Linked DNA regions of Homo sapiens. The protein of the gene in region 4 purifies or fractionates together with the protein of the main gene of each other region. This does not show direct contact. Each region holds a gene or a part of one and is shown on either strand. Other genes may lie near its edges.

Region 1 (3,500 bases), on a different chromosome or scaffold from region 4:
CTTTTCTGAGGGAAATGGACCCAGACTGCCCGCAGTGCCTAGTGGGTTTTGCTCCTGGAGCCTCAGGGCAGAGGAAGTCAGCCAGTCTTGAACAGCTGTCTTACCAACCACCATGGGAAGAGTTACAGAAAGCTTTTTCTCCAAAACATGCGCATAAGAGCTGTGCAACCTGTGTTACAGAGTTGAACTATAAAACGTAAAATTGCCTTACATTATCGACATCCCGCTAACCATATAGTCCCAGAGAAAAATGTAAAGCAGAGTGAATATCCCGGGAGGTTGGATGGAAGCACCTCCTCCAAGGCAGACTGACATTCAGCAGTTACATGCACCGAGGAGGTAAATGGAATAAATGGAAAGATAAATGGAAGTGTAATTCAAGCAGATTTAGCAGTACACTACAGCCTTTTTTAAGGCATGAAAATTTTTATGGAGGAAAAAACTTGAACTTCACTGTTGTAGTTTTGTGAATGCTTCCAGCAGTTGTCACTTTGGGAAATACTGTGAGGAAATACTCACAAGCGCCTGAGAGTAGAGAGCAGAATGTACGGGCTTTATTTGGATCCTGATTCAAACAAATGCTGTTAAAAGAAAATTTGGTGAGACAATCAGAGATATCTGAACACTGAATATTTGAATATATTTAACATCAAATTTAAACTTAACATTTAAAAATTGTTAATGTCTTAAGTATGATACTAGTTTTGTGATTATGTTTTGAGAGAGTTTTTATCTTTTAGAAATACACAGTGCAATGTTTATAGATGAAACCCCATGAAGTCTGGGACTCACTACAAAGAAATGATGAGGGTGGTAGGGGATATAGGTGAAGCAAGGTTGTCCTTGAGTTGATAATGTTTGAATCTGGGTGATGGGGATTCTTTGTTCTGTTCTACTTTGTTCAGGCTTGAAATTTTTCATAATGAAAGGTTTAAACATGCTTTTTAAAAAGGGCAGGAGTGCAGAGTTTCTCAAAACTCTGCTGGATCTATGAAACACTAAGGAAAACACTAGCTGTGTTCTGACAATCCATTAACATGGCCATCAGTAAGTAATGATTGAATGCCTACTGTGTGCCCAGAATGGAACTTGGTGCTGAGGGCTGGACCCAAAGATGAGGACCGAAGGAGTTCTGAGTGGTCAGAAAGATGTAGGACTCAAAGCCCATTAGGTCATTTTAGAGCACATTAGGTTCTTCTGCTGTCCAGTTGGTCAAAGATTCCATCGCCATGACGTTTGGATAAATTGACTTATGAAATGCTGAGAGGCAAACTGAATACAAGAATAAAGTGCTCAAAACTTCGATAGACTTTTTATTTATCTCAGTGCATCCCATGAGGAAGGCCAGCTAGACCACTGTTTTAGCGAGGAAATAGTCTTATTTTGTACCTGTGACTACTTTTAATATCGAACAGCTTTGGGTTTTATTTTCTTATAATTTATTTGTCTTTGCTGTGAGTTAATTTGTCATGTATAATGAAATGGTAAAAATGTATAAAATGAGACAGTTTCAGATGGGCCATGAGACTACAGTTCATTCAGCGATAGATGTTATATGGTTTATTTTTTATTTTCATGTAGATAGGTAGTTTGAATCCAGATATTAACAGACAGTTTAATGCTGTTAAATTTTGTCTCTAGGCTTGAAGTTGGCCTTTTTTTTCTTTAAACTGTGGAATAACTGTCACTCCTCCTTTTCCGGCAGATTGATGATATTGATCTTATCAGTGCCAACATGGAGAATGCACTTGCTTCTATTGGAGGTTTCTGCTGTGGCAGGTCTTTTGTAATTGACCATCAGGTGGGTTCTTTTTAAAAACAGGAGCTAAAACTGAAACTAATTTCTCCATTGGTCACCTCAAAATATAATTTTGAAATACGAAATTTTACTTAGTTTATCACACAATTTTTATTTAAATGTCAATTTTTAAAGAATCACTCAAAATATTTCTATTTAGAAATGATCTCACATTTAACAAAAAGTCTTGTTGCTGTTACACGTATAATGTTTATTTATGGCTGGATCTTACCCCCCTCACCACATGTACACACTGTTCAGTAGTTGTTCTAGAGAACTGGTGCCTTTCAAATGTTTACCTAGAAAGGACAGAGAATGTGTATATGTCTTCATTTGTTTCTTCTCAGCGACTTTCCGGCCAGGGATACTGCTTTTCAGCTTCGTTACCTCCCCTGTTAGCTGCTGCAGCAATTGAGGCCCTCAACATCATGGAAGAGAATCCAGGTATAACCCTTTAAAAACCCAAGGAATCAAAGAGATTTCAGGTTACGTTAGTTGTGTTACTGATTTACTTACTGGAGAAATTATTTGCCAGACAAAACTGGTTTGCAGTTACATTATATGGCATTCATAGGAAGAATGGCAGTGAAGAAGCTATTCCTGCCCCAAGGACTTGGGGTCAGAGCTTTTCTCCTGTGCTTGGGGCCAGAGCCAGAGCCAAAGCAAGGCTAGCTCAGATAGTGGGTGGAGATGCTGGGAGGACGAGGGGCTCTCAGCCAGTTCTGGGCCTAAACGTTCCATTGGTGTAAATAAGCCAGTCTTTATTTGGTTAATAGTTTTTTGAGAAATCAGCTGAAGCATGCTGCTTTTTTATCTGTGCAATTTTATAAATATTGTGAGTTTTCACCTTTAGCCTTTGAATCATCAGTTGGTACTGAGGCCAAGCCGGGTTTACCAGCAAAGAACTTACTCAGTGGGAAAAATAAAAAGTCTACTAAGAATTTAAAATGTGGCCTTTGGCTATGACAGTGCCACCTTTGCAAAGCTTAAAACGGAAAGGGAGCAGCAGGCCCTACCCGGTACAGTATTTCTGAATCTTCATCACTGATACTAATTCAGAGAACCAGAAAATGTGTGTCTCTGTGCTCATTCATATGCTTGCTTCTCAGATGGCCTGGCACGCCTACCTTCTGATCAGATACTTTAGTTTTGGGATTTTCCTTGAATAAAAAAGGAAAATATCAAGAAAAGATTGTAAAAATTACTTTACTATAGTTGATTTTTTACCAAATTGTTTAGGATAAAGAAATAAGCAATAAATTTGTACCCTTTGATTCTTAGCCAGATTAGGATCTTGATGAGAACAAGAGGCATTGATTGTTCTTGAAAGCATCATTCCAGGTTTGTTGAAAGTGGGATACTGAGGTGAGAAGGGGCCAGTTAGCACGCACCAGAGACAAAGCTTGGGCCTTCAGGGGAGTATGGGTTCTTGGCTCTGTTAGTATGTAGAAGGATTTGTAGCATTTTAAATTGATGAACTTGATCTGGGTCTTCAAAAATATTTTTAGGTTAGTACTATCATAAGTTTCAAATAGACTCTCAAACGTATTTTTTTCATCTAGGTATTTTTGCAGTGTTGAAGGAAAAGTGCGGACAAATTCATAAAGCTTTACAAGGGTGAGTTTTATATATTTTCAACCAACATAAAGTTTATCTGCACCACACTTAACAACTAATGGAAAGTTTTAAATTTCTAGGCTTG
Region 2 (3,500 bases), on a different chromosome or scaffold from region 4:
GCTTTTCCAAAAAAGTTGCTCATCATATTCCCTTTCCCTGGTGCCTTGTTGCCTGCTGCAGATGCCTACAAGCACAGAAAACACATATGATTTTTTGCTGGCATTTAGGCTGTTCATGAAGTAGCAGTCTCAAACAAACTCTTCTATAGCAAACTGTTGCGATGGTATAGTCTCTATATAATCATGCCAAAACGCGTAGGTGTTAGATATAAGAACAAATCTAGAACAATAATCCACACCAGACAGTAACTGGTGTTAATCTCTAAAGCTTAGTTTCTTATATATCTTATAAAATTAATTATCCATGGATATAGCTAAACTTTTCTTGAGCACATTTAAAAACTATTTAATTTGACAGAATTAAAAAAGATCAGAGGCAGTATGTACACAAAGCGGGAAAACCTAAAACATTACATTTTTAATCATCAGAAGTAGATCTGAATTCCTGGTTCCCACCATTTAGTAGCAATATGGGCTCCAGGCAAATTACTTAAGTCTAGGTTTCAGTTTTACCATATGCGAAAGGGAAATAGTTAATATCTCCCTCACAGAACTGATAAGAGGATTTAAACAAAGACACTGGCACACAGTTGAAATTCAATAAACGTTAGTGTTTTCCTCCATCCTTCTTCTTTCCCAAGACAGACGCTTGAAAATGACAGTGATCTGAATTAAATACACTTGACACTGGAAAATGACAGTGATAATAATAATAGTAACAACAATAATTATGCTTTTCTGGATTTTTAAAATAGTATCTTAATGATACTTTTCTTAAGTCAATGCCCTTGAGTTAGTTCAGATGACTGAACAATAAAAATCTAAGAGAAGCAAATAAGGCAAAAACAAAACAAAAAAACCTGCATAAAGTATAAGAATGGGAAATACACTAGGAAGGAAGGTATATGTTGCAAAGCCCAGAATATAAGATGTTCCTCAGAAAGACATATTGCAAATAAACATTTTTTTGAATGTCAACAATTCTCGAGGTGTTTTCACATGTTTTCATCTGGGTTTCACAACAATCTTGTAATGTGCACAAGGTAGGCATTACCATTTTGCAAAGGAAATCCAAGGTTTGGTGAGAATCATTATCAAAAGCAAAAGAACTCTTTCAGATAACAATATCAAGTATTAAAGGGTTCAAACTAAAGTAGAAAAATCAGAACTGAATATCAGAATCTTATATAAATAAACTACTACCACTGCAACCATTAATGCTTTTCTAGTTACCCACTCTGAGCTGCAATGAAGGGGTATCTTCAAAGAAGACTTACATTTGTTACTTCTTTAGCCTCTGTTTTCGTTTCCTTGTTGGTTTCTTGGGTTTTAGCAGCAGCTTTGGAGGCAAACATTCCCATAATTCCTTTGGGCTGCTGGGAAACCTGCTTGGATGCAGGTGGGCCATGACCATTGGTGGTCAGCTCATTGTTGGCTTGTGTCTCACTTGACATGTGAAGATGTGACTGCTCAAACTTTTTGGAAGACGAAGAGGATTCAGCAGGAGCTCTAGGGACGGCAGCTGCACATTGTATAGCACTAAATCTGGGGACAGAAATGTTACATTAAGTTAATGTCAGCATATGCATTCTTGGGTGGTTCAACAAAAAAAGAAAAAAAAAACTAATGTCAGTATAAAACTTTATTTTCAAACTCTTGCTTCTTCCACACAATACTTAACTCTAATATTGTTTAGAATCGACTTTAGAAAAATGTATGAAACTCTCTATTACATAAAGAAACAAATATTAGAGAGAAGTGAGTCACTTTTACTAGGTTATACATCTAGTTAGTAATAGATAGGATTGGAATTAGGTGCCTTCTACCACTAATTGAATATTCTTGTTTTTGATAAAAGTATTCTAATTCAAAAGAGTAGGAATGCAACCAACAATAATAAAAGATGCAGTAATTTCATTATCCTTGGGAAATGAAATAGCCTTTGTTTTTAAAGACCTTCCTCTGATAGGGCTAGATTTGCAATATTGACTGAATCAAAACTAAGCTTTAAATATTAACAAATTTCCTGGCAACTCTCTTGGCCAGAGTAAATCATGCTGTAGGGTTGGGCGCATTGGCTCACGCTTGTAATCCCAGCGGTTTGGGAACCTGAGGCGGGCGGATCGCTTAAGCCTAGGAATTTAAGATGGGCCTGGGCAACATGGTGAAACCTTGTCTCTACAAAAAATACAAAAATTAGTTGGGTGTAGTGGCGCATGCCTATAGCCCTGATTACTCAGGAGGCTGAGGTAGGAGGATCACCTGAATCCAGGAGGTCAAGGCTGCAGTGAGCCATGAGCTCATCACTCAACTCCAGCCTAGGAACAGAGTGAGATGCTGTCTCAAAATAAATAAATAAATCATGCTTTAAAACAAAGAAGAGGCCAGGTGCAGTGGCTCACGCCTGTAATCCCAGCACTTTGGGAGGCCAAGGCAGGTGGATCATGAGGTCAGGAGTTCAAGACCAGCCTGGCCAACATGGTGAAACCCCGTCTCTACTGAAAATACAAAAATTAGCTGGGCGTGGTGGCACGCGCCTGTAGTCCCAGCTACTCAGGAGGCTGAGGCAAGAGAATTGCTTGAACCCAGGAGGCAGAGGTTGCAGTGAGCCAAGATCACACTACTGCGCTCCAGCCTAGGCGACACAGCAATACTCTGTCTCAAAATGAAAAACAAAAAAAAATGGGAGAAGCTGGAAGCAGAGCCACTGGCTCCTATAACCTATAGTCCTTTACAGCCATTTGTTAATAATTTCTAATAATACTAACAGCACCGGACAAGTAAGTATGCCCAAGGCCAAGAGAAGAAAATTGGTGGAACAGCTTGTGTGGCATATTAAAGGGAACATACATCTCTCTCTAATCATTATAGAAGTGCCGTTTCACACAAATCCATAATGTAACATTCCACATTGTGAATGGGTAATTGATTTAGCCTTCTCAAAGGATTGTACTTAAAGCAAAGTTCCCCAGCTTTTTCTAACAAAGAAAAATATTTTATTTTTCCCAGTCTTGCTTATTGAGCATATGTAAGACCTCCTTGAAGTCTTATTTATCTTTTTTATTTCAGGCACCCAGCTCAAGACCTGGCACATAGAAAAGTGCTGGAAACGACATGTTGAAAGAATGACTAAGTGAATGAAAGTGAGGCTTCTGGCTTCTCTCCCTTCTTTAGTGTATCACCTTCAACTTGGGGTGGGAGATTTCTAAACTATGTGGTGATGGCAATTATCTTAAAAGATCAACCAGGCACAACTTCAAGATTAACTGCTAGAATACCTGGCCTAATGAAAAAAAAAAATCCCTGATACATCATTTCATCTCAGAAGTAACTTTAGACTGGGCAGCCCCAAAGCTAGAGTCAAAAGCTCCAAAAATCTTCCACTGATTTATTATGGTCTTCATCAGAAAACTCTGTATTTACACACATCTTTTATGCATCAGAGTTAAGAACAGACGGAAATCATTTGCTTTCACCCACTGCTCTTCCTCTCTGACCTT
Region 3 (3,500 bases), on a different chromosome or scaffold from region 4:
CATCCTATCCACGAAGCACTGCATGTTTAGCAGTGTCTCGTCAACCCTGACAGTATTTGGTTTAGGAGCAAAACTGAACTCACCAGTGCTGCGTTTAGTCATGTAGTCAAAGATATGTGTCTCTTACCTGTGGGAAAACGAAAATGACTAACATTAACACGTAGAAATAGATGCAGCGGGTATTTCAAGCTAACTACAGTGTGAAGACGATTGAAACTTGTACAGAGGGCAAACCTCTATCTATATTTCCTTGGCATTTTGAAATGACTCTAGGGGCTGTAAGAGGAAATGTTCTGCCAGTTTGCTGCTTTATAATCTTCTAGAAACTTGAAACCATCCCAATGAGTTGTGTTGACCAGCTCCTTTTACTCCATATAAAAAATATCTTACGTATCTGTGGTGGAAAGAGAAACTCTTGCGTTTGGAGGCTGCTTTTTCAATTTCAGTAATGTACACATTTTCTCATTTTGCCCTCAGCAAATTTGTGATAGGTAGTGTTAAGCCTTCTTTGCATTTTGGACTTCAGATTAATATGGAGCCCACAGGAGCTGCAGAACTAACTTTTTTTTTTGAGACGGAGTTTCGCTCTTGTTGCCCAGGCTGGAGTGGAATGCTCACTGCAGCCTCCGCCTCCCGGGTTCAAGTGAGTCTCCTGCCTCAGCCTCTGAGCAGCTGGGATTACAGGTGCCCGCTACCAAGCCCAGCTGATTTTTTAATATTTTTAGTAGAGACGGGGTTTCACCATGCTGGCCAGGCTGGTCTCGGACTCCTGACCTCAGGTGATCCACCCGCCTTGGCCTCCCAAAGTGCTGGCATTACAGGTGTGAGCCACCACACCTGGCCCTAATTTTTAATAAAAGAGCTGATGCTACAGCTAATCTCTTTTTTTTCTGAGACAGAGTCTCGCTCTGTTGCCCAGGCTGGAGTGCAGTGACGCAATCTCCGCTCACTGCAAGCTCCGCCCCCCGGGTTCATGCCATTCTCCTGCCTCAGCCTCCCAAGTAGCTGGGACTACAGGTGCCCGCCACCATGCCCAGCTAATTTTTTTGTATTTTTAGCAGAGACGGGGTTTCACTGTGTTAGCCAGGATGGTCTTGATCTCCTGATCTGGTGATCCGCCCGCCTCGGCCTCCCAAAGTGCCTGCTAATCTCTTAATTCTGGCTTCTTGCCTCCACCTTGGAGCTTCTTCTCAGTTGTGGCGATCTGATCAGAGAGAAGTGGTGATGTCGCTAAAACTACCAGATGCAGCGCGGGAGCCTTATTGCTTCGAGGTCTAGGCCCGCCCCCAGCCCCTCCTGGAAGTGCACTGAAGCCAAGTGTAGGATGTTCTTTGTGTGAGTGAGCAATGATGCATCATTGGGTTTTGTTCTCTTGAATAGCTATTCTTTGCTGGTAAGATTTGTAGTTGTTCTTGTGTCCTTTTAAGGGAAGTGTAATTATATTCTTTGCCTTTAGCATACATTTAAGTAGCTGTGTCTTTGGAATTGGATGTTGAATTGTTCCTCCAGCTCACACATGGAGCTCACAAAATGCTGACAGTTGCTGTAGAAACGATATCTGGCAGCTGTGACAGAGTTGGATCTTTGTGCACCCAAAAAATTTCCTTTGTAGGCTTTAGCAAATTAACATTTTAAAATGGGTGCTCATTATATACTGGGTAGTTGGTTTTAAGAATAAAAAACAGTTGGTATTTTATTTGCCACCTGAGAGACTACAAAAGGATTCTCCAGGTTCTGTAAAACCACTTATGCATCTTGTGAATTTTTGCAGGTAAAATAATTTTCTCCCTAAGAAATAGCAAACATCTGTCATTCCATAGCTTTTAAGTTAAGTAGGCACTGGAGCCTGATGGGACTAACACACCCTACAATTCTGCTGAGTTTTTGTCGTAACTGATCACCAGGACTGTGATTCTGAGACTTAGTTTTGATTTCTCCCCCACTTGACCAGATGATAAAAAACCAAATGGGAGAAAAGTTGTGGGTGATGTGGCATACGACGAGGCCAAAGAGAGGGCGAGCTTCATCACTCCTGTTCCTGGCGGCGTAGGGCCCATGACAGTTGCAATGCTCATGCAGGTAATTGTGAATAAAAGTTTCTATAAGAGTTCTGAAAAGCTGATCGAGTTTTGGCTGCTTTTCTCCCCAAGTAGAAATGTCAAAAACCTACTCAGAAGTAAAGATGTGAATTTATTGAGAAAAAGGGAAGGGAAGAATAGAGAAATAAGATCAGGCACATTAATAGAGGAAAGTAGGGATGGCATAATTCCAGTCTGTTTTGGAATATAATAACTTTGAAAGAAGAAAAGTGCGATCACACTGGCTTGGCCAGGTCTGTTTTGGTTTGCCTTCCCTTTCTTTTTTTTTTTTTTTTTTTGAGACGGAGTTTTGCTCTTGCTGCCCAGGCTGGAGTGCAATGGTGTGATCTTGGCTTACCGCAACCTCCATCTCCCTGATTCAAGTGATTCTCCTGCCTCAGCCTCCTGAGTAGCTGGGATTACAGGTGTGCACCACCACGCCCGGCGAATTTTGTATTTTTAGTAGAGACAGGTTTCTCCACGTTGGTTAGGCTGGTCTGGAACTCCCGACCTCAGGTGATCCGCCCACCTTGGCCTTCCAAAGTGCTGGGATTAGAGGTGTGAGCCACCGTGCCCGGCCTGTTTTCCCTTTCTAACATGCACCAGCTGACAGGGGCCAGGCGAGCAGCCCCAAAGCATGTTAGGTGCCTCTTGACTCTTAGCTAGGATTGAAGCATGGTAATAAGTGGGTCTGAAGCAGTTCATTTTGTGATTGAACTGGAGTGACCTGGAGCTTGAAACTGAGGTGAGGATTAAAATAACCACCTCTTCTAAGTTTCATTTATTTCATTTTGCTTAGAGCACAGTAGAGAGTGCCAAGCGTTTCCTGGAGAAATTTAAGCCAGGAAAGTGGATGATTCAGTATAACAACCTTAACCTCAAGACACCTGTTCCAAGGTAAAAATAAAGTTTTACTGATTTAAAACTTTGTGAATTGTTGGTTTTTAGTTGACAGATACTGTGGGTTCACATATGCTCCCTCTGAAGGTGCCTTCAGTGGTTGGGGTTGGGTTGGGGGCTTGTTACTACTGTGGGATTAATTAAACTCAGTGGATAAACATTAATACCTATTTTCTATGTTTCCAAAGTGACATTGATATATCACGATCTTGTAAACCGAAGCCCATTGGTAAGCTGGCTCGAGAAATTGGTCTGCTGTCTGAAGAGGTAGAATTATATGGTGAAACAAAGGCCAAAGTTCTGCTGTCAGCACTAGAACGCCTGAAGCACCGGCCTGATGGGAAATACGTGGTGGTGACTGGGTATGCTTTTTATTCATGTTGCCATCCAAATCTTAGTATCAGTCCTGATACTAAGGCGTTGCATTTGCACTTGGCACATGTATGTAGAGGTGCCTTTAATTTGATTTTAGCATTTTCACCCGTATTTGATCTCATTTGATCCTTACAGCAATCCTGAGAG
Region 4 (4,095 bases):
TATTTTCCAGAGGATTTCATGGTTCTAGAAGTACTACTTCTAAAGCCTGCTTCTCTCTGCAGAGCTGCGAATGTCTTTTCAGATAAGAAATTCTGCATTCCATTTATCTTCAGGATGTATCCTTTGATAAGATTTCAACAGATTAATGAGCAACTGAACTGCCATATTTTGAAGTGGGAGAACAGTTTGCCTGAGTCAGGTATCCATCCCTTTAGGTTCTCGATTGGCCCTTGGCCCACGGTGAGTGAGCTCTCTTTGCTTGGTGCATCATCGCTCCACCTAGTTCAAGTTCTGGCGGCTTCCTGATTTTGATTCTCTTGGGAAATGAGGCCTGCTTTAGCCTGAGGCTGGCTCAGGAAGGCAACCTTTCACCTACTTAAGGAAAAGTTCACAGGCAAACTAAACAATATGTTGGGTTAAAAAAAGAGACCAATCCTACTAGTACTGGGTGAGTGAAAATCTTCTCTCTTACAGTACATGTAGTTCTACTACCTGCACTGGATGCTTTCTTTCTTATCCTTGTTTAGTGTCTAAAACGAGAAACAATGGCAAACTCCTTAAAATACAGAACCACTGTGGATTCCTAAGAACGTTCAAAAACAATAATTTGGAGTAAACTTTATTTTTTGAAAAGAAATAGCAAATTTGCATGGTGAGTGCATTTAGAGGAAAACGGGTTATATGCTAGGTCAAGTGAGGCCAAAACAAGAGAAATGATAATGGATAAGCTTTGAGTTTTTGAGGCTCTTCTTGCCCCAGGCAGTTCCAAAAGCCATTTTATTTGGCAGGATTTGACAGCAATTTCTGCAAGAACGGGATAACTAATCCAGTTAAAAACGAAAAAGAATATGCATACTATTTCATAATTTATATTGAAATTTATACATTACAGCAATAATTGTGCGACTGTAATTTTTTTTTTTTTTTTTTTGGTGGAGGGGTGTTTTTTCCTGGAGGGACGGAGCTCCTGCAGACCCTATTGGGCTAGCCGCTCCTCCCACGTCGCTGCCGCAGATCCCCGCTCCCCTCCCCCACCCGCGGTCCGTCCCTCCTGGTCGACCCCGTTCCCGCCCCCGCCCCGCGCAGACTGCAGCCAGGTCCGGTCCGCGGCGGCTCCGCGGAATGACCCGTAGTAACCTCGCCCCGCCCCGGGCCGCCAGCGCCGCGCTCCCCGGCCCGAATTCGATAGGCCCAGCCCCGCACGCGCCACCGCTCGCGGGCCAATGGGTGGCAGCCTCTCTGCATAGGCAACGAGTGCCGGCCGGGGGTGAGCGTCCCAGGCGGTTCCGCTCAACAGACGCTGCTGTGGCTGCGCCGGGCTGCGACACTGCAGTTGTCTACGCGGCCGGGGCCGGGACGAGGAGGCGTTGGACGGGGTCGCATACGTTCGTCCCCTCGCATTGCGGCCCCGACAGCTGCGCCAGGATCCCCGGGCGGCGGCGCGGGGCGTGAACGCTCTGGGGCTCAGCCAGGCCTGCGCGGGCCCGAGGCCGGAGGAACCCGGACTCCGGCGTAGCGGTGAGTGCGGCGCCGGTTGTGGGAGCGGCGGGAGCCGGTTGGCGGCGCGGCCTCCGCGTGCGGTTCGGCTGGGCCCGAGGGGCTCCCCAGCCTCGGGGCCTGGGACCCTGTCGTCGGCGCCGCACCTGACCGCTGGGTGTGCGCGCGGGCGGCCCGCGGCACCAGGAGCAGCGGCGAGCAGGGTGGGAGGCGGCCCGCTGGGGTCCGGGAAGCGGCTGACGTGGGGCCTCGGCCCTGAGCCCACGCGAGCCGGGAGCTGCAGCGCGAACGGCGTGGGGCGGCGCTGACCAGGCAGGGAGGATGCACTGCGTGCCTCCCGGCGCTGTGGGGCGGGGTGGGGAGGCCACCCCCTTGAATTAAGAGGGCTCTGCCGCGGCCCCAGCAGTGCGGTGTCCGTGGAAGGAGACTCAGCCCTGCGATTTCGGAAAACCCTTGTTTGGCGGGGCGGGAGGGGCTGTTGCTGCGTGGGGTGAGAAGAAACTAGGTGCGTGAGGTGGGTCGACCTTGGTGATTGGTTCTGGGCACTATCGTGGTGGTGGGACTGGGATTAAGACTGTCGTTTGGGGTTTGAGAGTTGCAGCTTTGCTTTTCCCCAAGTGCGTTTTAATCATATACTGTTGATAGGTTGGGTAACTCGGGGACTGCTTACTACCAGCAGTCCTGTGGGGTAGGTGTTATCAGGCTCGTTTCACAGATGAGGAGCCCGAGGCACAGGTTTTCAAATGGTTTTCGCAGGAAGTCTGATACTAGAAAGTGTGCTCTAAGCTGCTGTATAAAAGATCCCTCGAAAATGAAAAGGCTGGAGGAATGTCTTTAAAATTATATGGAAGCTAGAAAGGCAGTAGGCTTTGTGAACGAAATTATAGCTGAAAAGAATGACAAATAGCTGACATTTATTGAGCTTTTATTACATGCCACGCACTGTTTGGAGAGCTTTATGTACAGTGTCTTCACACTGTTAACAGTCCTCTGGGGTGGGGGTTATTCCCATTTTACAGCGGGAGAAACTGCAGATTGGACGACTTAGCTTGCCTCAGATCTCAGCTAGTAAGAAGCTGGGATTCAGACAGGCCTGTGTAAATCCAGAGCTCTGAAATCTAAGCACTATATTTTGCTGCCTCTCCTTGGTGGCTGGCTGAATAGTTTCCACAGTGGATTTTAGTCTGGGTGGCCAGGAGAGTTGTAGTTTGATGATACCTTCTTTCATGTTTATCAACCTATTTTGTTTCCCCAAATTAGTTCTGAGAGTTAAGGGTGCTGATGAGTTGCTCCTGAAAGTGTATTAGAAGGGTATTATAGGGGACAGGTGGTGTGACATGGGAATCTTTTGCACAGACTTGATTTTGTTTTCTGGCATTTTTCTGGGCAGTTCCTCACACTTGGGGATGAGTAAGCCTTCTAATTGTCGCATGCGTTTTCTCTCTAGACTTTTCCTGGTTTCTCTTTTGTATAAAAATATTGGTTTTGTAGGATGACATTGGGTGTGGGGCAGAGTGGTCCATTGGACCTAAGGGTCAAGGTGACAAGTCACCTCGTATCTTTGGATCTCAGTTACTGAATTTGTAAGGCTTTAGACTCAGTGACTTAAAGCTTAAATATTCTGAGGGTCTAAAATGTTCTCCTTGAAGGAAGAAAGGAAGAATGGGAGAAATGAAGAACGCACAAATTATAAGGGGAAAATCATCCTCTGTCTGGTTTGGGGTGAGAATCAGATCTTAAAGCCTCGAGGTCTGTTTCATTTGCTTTTGTGTTTCCCTGCTGTTTGGTTCCAGTTAAGTGACTGTTTCATTCCTCATTTGATTAATTGACTCACCTAGAGCCATTTAATTTTTGTGATATGTCAGGCACCTTATTAGGTGCTGGGAATACAGCTGTGAATAGAGGGAAAAATAGACAAGAAGCAAATGGTCATACAAACGGATAGGTGGTTGCAAGTTTGATAGGTACGATGAAGGAAAAGTATTGTGTGAATGAGGATTATGAGCAAGATTGTGATGTAGATGGAAATCTAGTCTAGGGAGCTGTTTTTTGAATTGATGTGGTGAGATTTTGCTAGAGGACAGTCTTGAAATCTGAGCCTGCAATTATGTACATAATGCAAGAGTTTGGGAAGTTGTCAGCAACAATAATTCTTTTCATTGCACAGTGTATTTCATACTCAGAATGTCATCCCGGCTCTCATTGCAAGATACGAAAATGAGATAGGCAACTTTACAAGTTGTCATTCTGTCTGCCTTCAGGGTACTTAAAGCTTAAATAGTCCTCTAATACTTTCTCCCACTCAAAATGAACTGTAAGGGGGAGTAAGACTCTTTTATGTGAGATTTGGGCTTGAATATTGGATTTAGATTTTTTTTAGGAAAGCTAGGCCAAGGGTGATAGGCTTTTAAAACAACGAGCATCATAATGACTCAAAAGTATCCATTGTAGCATACGCTTCACAGGGTCATTTAACTTAAAAGTCTCATCATCTTAGGAGATCATTTTTTGATGGCTGGATTGGGAAATATAGATTGTTAAAAATATATAAATGTCTCAGTTGAACATGTATGAAGCCAATTCAAATAATACATTGCA

The links. Proteins that work in one complex are often made in the same cells at the same time.
Region 1: the proteins of ACSL3 (region 4) and SPTLC1 purify together in Homo sapiens (affinity purification with mass spectrometry, with the first as the bait; one large-scale study listed by BioGRID). This does not show direct contact.
Region 2: the proteins of ACSL3 (region 4) and POLD3 purify together in Homo sapiens (tandem affinity purification; one large-scale study listed by IntAct). This does not show direct contact.
Region 3: the proteins of ACSL3 (region 4) and MTHFD1 fractionate together in Homo sapiens (co-fractionation; one large-scale study listed by BioGRID). This does not show direct contact.

Annotation. Positions count from the first base shown.
Region 1 is NC_000009.12:92,045,914-92,049,413, reverse strand, and holds part of SPTLC1 (serine palmitoyltransferase 1), read left to right. Parts: intron 1-1,705; coding exon 1,706-1,801; intron 1,802-2,145; coding exon 2,146-2,242; intron 2,243-3,360; coding exon 3,361-3,415; intron 3,416-3,500. UniProt on the Homo sapiens protein: Component of the serine palmitoyltransferase multisubunit enzyme (SPT) that catalyzes the initial and rate-limiting step in sphingolipid biosynthesis by condensing L-serine and activated acyl-CoA (most commonly palmitoyl-CoA) to form long-chain bases.
Region 2 is NC_000011.10:74,616,582-74,620,081, reverse strand, and holds part of POLD3 (DNA polymerase delta subunit 3), read right to left. Parts: intron 1,546-3,500; coding exon 1,278-1,545; intron 66-1,277; coding exon 1-65. UniProt on the Homo sapiens protein: Accessory component of both the DNA polymerase delta complex and the DNA polymerase zeta complex.
Region 3 is NC_000014.9:64,422,853-64,426,352, forward strand, and holds part of MTHFD1 (C-1-tetrahydrofolate synthase, cytoplasmic), read left to right. Parts: intron 1-1,951; coding exon 1,952-2,079; intron 2,080-2,877; coding exon 2,878-2,975; intron 2,976-3,166; coding exon 3,167-3,340; intron 3,341-3,500. UniProt on the Homo sapiens protein: Trifunctional enzyme that catalyzes the interconversion of three forms of one-carbon-substituted tetrahydrofolate: (6R)-5,10-methylene-5,6,7,8-tetrahydrofolate, 5,10-methenyltetrahydrofolate and (6S)-10-formyltetrahydrofolate.
Region 4 is NC_000002.12:222,859,741-222,863,835, forward strand, and holds the start of ACSL3 (fatty acid CoA ligase Acsl3), read left to right. Parts: upstream 1-1,295; 5' UTR 1,296-1,518; intron 1,519-4,095. UniProt on the Homo sapiens protein: Acyl-CoA synthetases (ACSL) activates long-chain fatty acids for both synthesis of cellular lipids, and degradation via beta-oxidation.